Homo sapiens: one gene and its partner. The protein of the gene in region 1 purifies or fractionates together with the protein of each later gene. This does not show direct contact. Each region holds a gene or a part of one and is shown on either strand. Other genes may lie near its edges.

Evidence for each region.
Region 2: the proteins of ATP8A1 (region 1) and SLC7A8 fractionate together in Homo sapiens (co-fractionation; one large-scale study listed by BioGRID). This does not show direct contact.

What each region holds. Positions count from the first base shown.
Region 1 is NC_000004.12:42,649,658-42,655,083, forward strand, and holds part of ATP8A1 (phospholipid-transporting ATPase IA), read right to left. Parts: intron 1-5,426. UniProt on the Homo sapiens protein: Catalytic component of a P4-ATPase flippase complex which catalyzes the hydrolysis of ATP coupled to the transport of aminophospholipids from the outer to the inner leaflet of various membranes and ensures the maintenance of asymmetric distribution of phospholipids.
Region 2 is NC_000014.9:23,142,161-23,145,660, forward strand, and holds part of SLC7A8 (large neutral amino acids transporter small subunit 2), read right to left. Parts: intron 1,045-3,500; coding exon 919-1,044; intron 1-918. UniProt on the Homo sapiens protein: Associates with SLC3A2 to form a functional heterodimeric complex that translocates small and large neutral amino acids with broad specificity and a stoichiometry of 1:1.

The DNA.
Region 1 (5,426 bases):
GTGGTGGCTATGTGGCAGACAAAACTCTAGGTGTAGAGGGTACAGCAGCGAACAAATCTCACAAAAACGCTCCTTTGGGGTGCTAAGGTTTCAGTAGGAGGGTACTAGATTTAGTACATCTAGATTTAGCTCTGAGTATTTTACAAATTGGATTATAAGGCATTTTCATCTTTAGGACATAGATTCATTCATTTAACCAATGCCTACTATGTGCCAGGCAATGTCCTCATGGGGAGCAATATATCAGTGGACAAACCAGACAAAACCCCCTGCCCTTAGGGAGCTTACTACCCGGAGAATACAATCATTGGAAGGTTTGGGCTCCTTTCGCTAAGAAGTAAAGAATGAAGGGGAAAGTGGTGGCCTTCATGTCATTGACATTCCAATGAAACCATGTGAATAGAGACCCACGCAGCAAACATTTCGTTAACTTCAAAAGTGTCCTCTGACCTTTGCAAACATTCCCACAGCTGTAACATTAGGTATATGCTTCAATTCTGTTTTTGAAATGACAGAAAAAACAAACCATGAATTCTGCACTGAAGATAGAAAACCTAAAATAATCAGATCTAATACACTTATATCTCCAGAATTACACTAAGTAAAATGACACCTACTTTGAGATTTTCAAATATTGATGACATGCTGTATCGCTATACTCATACACACCTTCTCACACAGTGCCACTTCAGGTAAAACTGAACTCATCTCCATACTCATCTCCATGTTTCCTTTGGGACCTCCTTCATCGACCACAGCCTTTTGTCCCACCACCCATTTAGCTGGCACACAGCTGGTGCATAATAAGTGGTTTTTAAAGGAACAAAAACCTTAGTCATCTTTTACCTGGAATAGCGTCCTAAAATTTTTCCTTTAAGGACAGCTTAAATTACTTTTTATTCCTTTTGTTACCTTTTATGTAAATAAAACATACTATTCTACATAGTTACAAACATTTTAGAGTTGCCATTTAGAAAAACAATTCCTAAAACAACTTCTGGATACATCGTTTAGCACATATTTTACATAATCAAATAAATGTCATTATATTTTAGCATTATAGTATTCAACAGAAGAAAACACAAACCACTGGATAGGTATGTGAAGTTTTTGTGTGTGTGCATTTCTTTAGTTCTGAACAATTTAATCCTTATTATATGTAAAGTATGAGCTCCAGAGCAGTTTCTATGTTATCCAAGCAAGAGCCTTTGGCAATCTGAGAACTTCACTGTGACTGATTCTGTTGTCTGCCTGATATAGTTTGGCTGTGTCCCCACCCAAATCTCATCTTGAATTGTAAATCCCACAATTCTCACATGTCGTAGAGGAACCCAGTAGGAGGAAACTGAATCATGGGGACAGGTCTTTCCCATGCTGTTCTTGTGATAGTGAATAAGTCTCACAAGATCTGATAGTTTTATAAATGGAAGTTCCCCTGCACAAGCTCTCTCTGCCTGCTGCCATCCATGTAAGATCTGACTTGCTCCTCCTTGCCTTCTGCCATGATTGTGAGACCTCCCCAGCCATGTAAGTCCATTAAACCTCTTTCTTTTGTAAATTGCCCAGTCTCGGTACGTCTTCATCAGGAGCATGAAAACAGACTAATACAGTACATTGGTACCAGAAGAGTGGGGTGCTGCTGAAAAGATACTGAAAATGTGGAAATGACTTTGGAACTGGGTAACAGGCAGAGGTTGAAAAAAGTTTGGAGGGCCCAGAAAGCAGGAAAATGTGGGAAAGTATGGAACTCCCTAGAGACTTGTTGAATGGCTTTGACCCAAAATGCTGATAATGATACAATGAATTCCAAGCTGAGTAGTCTCGGGTATGTCTTTATCAGCAGTGTGAAAATGGACTAATGCACTGCTCAATAACCATACACCCTTTTCCGTTTGTAACACAACACTGGGTAATGTGTCCAGCTGGAAATTTCCATTTCCCAGCTTGCCCTGCAAGTGGAAACCAATGCAAAATAAGCATTAGTTTTTGTGTGGTGCTTTCTGAAAAACCTGTTTGCCTTTCACCCTTCCATTTTCTCCTGGCTAAAACTATTGTACATGATGGCTGGCACCCCAGCAACCATGCTGTGACTTTATGGAAGACAAACTCTCAGGACAGTGAAGCAGAAAGGCACAAGGAGCCAACATCCCTTATGACTTTGTGTAGCAGGCACAGCCAACCCTGTCTACCTCCACACTAGTTTTACAGGAGTGAGAAAAACTATTTTGTGTAAGCTACCATTATTTCAGTCTGTTTCCAGATTTCAAATGCTAAGTTCAAACACCCATTTGATTTATCTGGGGCAGCTAAATAAAGAGACCTAAAATTCTTAGTCTTCTGCTTTATCTACTCTTGCCTTATGGCAAATTTTTCCACTATCAGGGTTTCAACTATTGTCTCTCAAGATTCCCAAGTTTGAGGTTTCCCACATCTCACCTAAAAATTTCCAACTACCTTTAAAACATGTCCATTTGGATGTCCCCGTTACCTCAAAATTTGAATTAGTATCATCTCTTATTTTATTAGTCCTCCTTCCCAATTTCCTTGTTGTTTAATAGATTTTCTCAACCAGTCAAGCTCAAGACTGTAATGGAAATTTCCTCAAAATGTGTTTCACCAGCACCAGGGTATCTTGGGAGGCTCATTAAGAATGCGAATCCCCAAGCCCACCACAGATTTACTCAACTAAATCTTCACAAGCCAGCCCAATAAGATCCCTGATAATTTATGAACCTACTACCAATGTTATTACTAATAAAATATCAATATGCTATTACCAATAAGATCCATGGTAACTTATTAATATTAGAATTCTAAATTATTGTTGAGACTTGCTTTTTTCAAAAAAGTCCTTCTCTCTCCTGCCCTATGTTTACTAAATATTCACTAAATAGCAAAGTCCTATAATATGATTGCTATGATTTGGCTGTGTCCCCACCCAAATCTCATCTTAAATTGTTGCTCCCATAATCCCCAAGTGTTGTGGAAGAGACCTGGTGGGAGGTAACTGAATCATGGGGGCAGGTCTTTCCCGTGCTGTTCTCATGACAGTGAATAAGTCTCACGAGATCTGATAGTTTTATAAAGAGCAGTTCCCCTGCACACGCTCTTTTGCCTTTGCTCCTCCTTCACTTTCCGCCATGACTGTGAGGCCTCCCCAGCCATGTGAAACTGAGTCCATTAAACCTCTTTTTCTTTATAAATTACCCAGTCTTGGGTATGTTTTTATTAGCAGCCTAAGAGCGGACTAACACAATGACCTTTGTGACCTCATTTCCTACTATTCTTCCCCTCACCGTTCCTAATTCCCGATGTGAAACTGAGTCCATTAAACCTCTTTGTCTTTATAAATTACCCAGTCTTGGGTATGTTTTTATTAGCAGCCTAAGAGCGGACTAACACAATGACCTTTGTGACCTCATTTCCTACTATTCTTCCCCTCACCGTTCCTAATTCCCGATTCTCTCCTGCCTTGGGGCATTTGCTCTGGCTGGAACACCCTTCCCCCAGATCCCCACCAGGCCAACTCCCTTATCTCCTTCATGCCAACTTTTCAATGAGGGCTAGTCTAACTAACCTACTTAAAATTGCAATCCATCCACCCACCTTAAACATTTTGCTTTCTCTTCATTTTCCCCATTTGCCACACAACAAATTCTATAATTAGCATATTTTGTGTGTGTTTTGTCTCCTGCCTCACTAGAAAGTAAGCACCTCCAGGGCCATGCTTTTCCTCTTCTGTTAACTGATGTATCCCAAGTGCCTGTAACAGTAGTTGAAGTTCAGTAGACATCTGCTGAATGAGTTAATGATTCAGTCAGAAATCTGATTCCTCCCTTCCCATTCTCACTGTTCCACTCTAATACTAATTCTGACTTTTGTCATTTTAAGACTGTTTTGCAAAAGAGTCTATCTACCATACCTTTTCCTCCAAACCAGCCAACACACTTCCAGACTTAACTAAGTTACTACTTTTAGGATGTCCCTCCCTTATAACGATGTGGCCCCCAACTGGCCCTGTTAGATATTATATATTGGAGTTAGGCTTAAATAAGAAATTAGATTCAATGAACTCTAAGAACCTGTTCAAATATTCGGTCCTGTGTCCAAATGACTCACCTTGGCATTTAAAATGCTTTGTAATCTGGCAGTAATCTACCTATCCAAACTTTTAGCCTGCTCCTTCCAAGTTTCCCTCTGCTCCCGGCCAATTTCCTTAAGAACTCTGAAATAAGCCATGTTCACTTTCCCCATTTGTTCTTGTTATGACTGTCTTCAACACTCTCCTAACTACAGAAATAGATGTCAGTATCCTTTAGGATCCTGCTGCTCAGACTGTGATCTGCAGGCCAGCATCCTTCAGCATTACATTCTTGTCAGAAATGTAGTAACTCTGGCCCCACTCCAGACCTCCTGAATCAGACTCTGCGTTTAACAAGATCCTCAGGTGATTCCTATGAACCTTCGAGTTTGAGAAGCACTGTGTGAGGGCTCATCTCAAATCACACCTCAATGAAATGTTCACTCAGCAGGCCTTATGTTCAGTAATAAGTATGTACTAAATTCCTAATCTTCCACAGGTCCTGCGTCCCCCACAGCATGCACAATATTTAATTAACAACATCCCCTCTTAGACTATTTATTCCCTCTTTAAGTCCTTTCTCCCCAGTTTGGTTGTAAACAACTTACAGGCATGACAGTCATACATCTGGCCAATCTGGATGAAGGGAACAGAAACCCATTCAAGTCATTTCAAGGGGGGGAAAAGAGCTTATTTTAATGCTACTTGGGAACTAGGGCTATAAAATTCGGGAGGGCAGGCTCCAAGGTCTCGCCACCCTCTCTCAGGATCTGTGTCTGCCCATCCATTCCATTTTCTTTGCTATCTCTCTACTCACTCATAGTTTCTGCTTTCTTCTATCAGCAGCATTCCCATGACTTATTATGGCCACCCATTCTCTCCCATACCAGCCTATTCACCTCTGCTCCCTTCTGCTTTTACTCTAAATCTCTAACTTTAATGTTTTCAAGAGAGATATGATTAACACAGAGACTCTTTTTGAGCCAAACCACAAGGTTACAAGTGTCTGAGTCACATAAGAATTGGTTGACCCTGGGTCAGGAGCCAACCATAGTCCAATCAGCTGAGGCCAAAAAGGCTGCAGTTCAGAACAAGGCCCTCTAGGCAGCAGGGCCTCTCTCAAAGGAGAATATTCCTTAGGAAAGGTAGGACTATATTTTTTAGGAAAGAAATATTTCCTAGGAAAGAAAAGTGTGGGCAGAGCAGGCAATGAGCCACAACGCCAGCCCCACAGAGTCATTATTTGTCTTCACCACAGTCCCAAGCACATGCTGAAGCTATAATAAACTGGAATCAACTAATCTCAGGGGAAAGGGTCATTCACTCACCAAGCACCACTATGGCC
Region 2 (3,500 bases), on another chromosome or scaffold:
GCTGCCCACACTGCCTTCAGGGCTTGTGGGAAATTTCCCTGTTTGTCACCTGACTTTCTCCGTGAGGCAGTGACGCTGGGCAGAGCCTCATGGTGCCATGGGTCCCATGGAAACCAAATATAGCCTCAGGCTTGGAAAGGGCCAAATCCAGTGGGGAATGTTGGCAGGGGCCCCGGGAATGCAGAGCTCTCTCTCTCAGAGATTATAAGTAATTTTGAAACATAAAATACCTTTCTCTGTCCTCCACTTTAAGATGTGGACAAGATTCAACAGAAGATGCAGGGAGCTTCCCTGGGGTTGGGGCAAAAAGACAATAGGAATCTAGAGATCTGGGGTTTTTGTTTGTTTATTTGTTTTTGAGACAAGGTCTTGCTCAGTCGCCCAGGCTGGAGTGCAGTGGCACAATCATAGCTCACTACAGCCTCAAACTCCTGGGCTCAGGTGATCCTCCCACCTTAGCCTCCAGAGTAAGTGAGACCACAGCCATGCACCACCATGCCCCATTAATTTTTAAATTTTTTTGTAGAGATGGGATCTCGCTGTGCTGTTCAGGCTAGTCTCAAACTCCTGGGCTCAAGTGATCCTCCTGCCTCATCCTTCCTAAGTGCTGGGATTACAGGTGTGAGCCACCACACTCGGCCGATATGTGGGGTCTTTACCTAGCTGTGCTACAGCCTTGAGGTAAGCATGGGAGAGGTGACCTTTGCAGCCTAAAGGGAGCATTCCCTACTCCCAGCCACCTCGGGGAAAATGGTTTCTCCTTCCCTTTTGTCAAGCAAGGGAAGAAGAAGAGAAGTCACTCAAGGCTAGAATTGGGGAAATCTCAGGGTGTGGCATACTTCCAAAGCTGGGCTGAGAGGGTGTGTACATGCAAGGGGAGGAAAGCTGGGCAGTACCTGTTTTTCCTGCGATACTCACCTTTGCATATCTGTACAATCCCCATGATGATAATCAGGGCCAAGGCCAGGAGCTTCCCAGCTGTGAAGATGTCTTGAACCCGGGTGGCCCACCGCACACTGGAACAGTTGACCCATGTGAGGAGCACTGAAATGAAAGACCCCCAAACAGACCTTCAGGGGCTGTATCTGGCTGCATGATGCCCAAGGCACACAAGCAGAACTGCTCCCTCATCCTGACGATGACATTGTAGTAGGTGAGCCAGACATCCAGCAAGCTCAACCCCAGGGACCAGAGACTTTGGCTAGGTTAATGGGTTGCAAATGGGGATTATATGTCCCAAATTAGAGCTTGGGCCCAGCATGCCCTGCTGAGGGCTGGAAGCCAGAAGTAGGCATGGAAGTGTAGGCACTGGCTTTGGGGGTAAAATCACATCTGATCAGGGCACAAGTATGGGCTTTGTCTTCAAGTTATTATTTGTGCAAGAGAAGCTGTGAGCAGCTGGTGGGAGTCAGGAAGCCACCTTCCTGAGCCTGATTTTGGGGTAACAGAGGCTTAGGGGAATCTTATGTTACTTAGGTTTATTGAGATATAATCTACATCTTACTAAAACTCACCTTTTTAAAGTGTACAGTTTGATGAGATTTGACAAATGCATTTAATGGCTTAATCACTTCAGCACTTCATATATAGAACATTCCCAACACTCTAAAAAGTTTCCTTTTGCATCATGCTCCTTTGTAGTCAGTTAGGCAAATCTTCTTCCCCTACCTCTACAACCATTACTTTGACTTCTGTCCCTATAGCTTTGTCTTTTTCAAAATGTCACATAAATGGAATCATATAATATGTGGTCTTCTGTGTTTGGCTTCTTTCACTTCACAGAATGCTTTCGAGATCTACTCATGTTGTTGCATATATTACAATTTGTTCCTTTCTATTGCCAAATAGCATTCTATGATATAAAGGTATCTGTTTGTTTTTCCATAGACATTTGGGTTGCTCACAGTGTGGGACTATTATGAATAGAGTTGTGATAAATACTTGTGTAGATGTCTTTTTTCTTTTTGTGGATTGTAGAGATCTTTGAGTGGGGTTTTCATTGCTCTTGAGTAAATCCCCAGGAATGAGATCCTGGGCCATAGAGTAAATGTGTTTAACTTTCTAAGAAACTGCCAAACTGTCTTCCACAGTGGCTGTCTCATTTTGCATTCCTACTCTCATGTCAGAGTTCCTGTTGCTCTGTATCTTTCCCAGCATTTGGTATTGTCAGTTTAAACACAATTTTTTTTTTTTTTTTTTTTTTGGCTAATAGGCATGTAGTTGTATTTCATTATGGTTTTGATTTGCATTTCCCTAATGGCTAATGATGTTGAGCAACTCTTCATGTGCTTATTTACCATCCATTTACAAATCTTCTTTGGTGGCATGGGGAGTTGTAATTCTCTACAAAAAATTTTAAAAATAAGCTGGGTGGTGTGGTCGCTCTGACTTCACTTGAATGGCTGATCAAGTTTTATCAGTACCGTATTCTTATATGGTACTTCTACTTTCCAAGTATTTCCCAACCTTATTTGATGCTGAGAACATTTGGTTAGGGTAGGATGGTCCTGACATTAACCGTCTGTAACCTTCCTTTGTGCGCCATCTCCACCTGGCAAACCCCTTCTCCTCTTTCAAGATCCAGCTTAAATGTCACCTGTTCTGTGAATCTCTATAATTCAGCATGTTATTTATTCCTAACAACATGCCTGCAAGGGAAGATATATCAGCTGTGTTTTGTAGACGAGGAACAAAGTTTGTTCCTTCTCTCTAGAACAATCCCAGACCACTTTGTTTATATCTAATGTTGGGATGTATTTCTTTTTTCTTTTTCTTTTTTTTTTTTTTTCTGAGACGGAGTCTCACTCTGTCGCTCAGGCTGGAGTGCAGTGGCGCGATCTCGGCTCACTGCAAGCTCTGCCTCCTGGGTTCACGCCATTCTCCTGCCTCAGCTGGGACTACAGGCGCCCGCCACCACACCCAGCTAATTTTTTGTATTTTTAGTAAAGACAGGGTTTCACCGTGTTAGCCAGAATGGTCTCGATCTCCTGATCTCATGATCCTCAGCCTCCCAAAGTGCTGGGATTACAGGCAGGAGCCACCGCCCGGCCGGGATGCATTTCTTTGTATTAAAATGACCTGCTTCTGGCCGGGCATGGTGGCTCACGCTTGTAATCCCAGCACTTTGGGAGGTCAAGGTGGGCAGATCATGAGGTCAGGAGTTCGAGACCAGTCTGGCTAACACAGTGAAACCCGTCTCTACCAAAAATACAAAAATTAGCTGGGCGTGGTGGTGGCGCGCCTGTAATCCCAGCTACTCAGGAGGCTGAGGCAGGAAAATCACTTGTACCCGGGAGGCGGAGGTTGCAGTGAGCCGAGATTGTGCCAGTGTTCTCCAGCGTGGGTGACAGAGCTAGACCACATCTCAAAAAAAAAAGAAAAAAAAATTTTTTTTTTTTTAAGACACCAAGGGCAAGTAAATGTTTTCATGTTTTTAAATCTCAGGACTTATCATTGGCGCCTGCAAATAGTAGATGCTCAGCAAGTATTTAATAAATGAA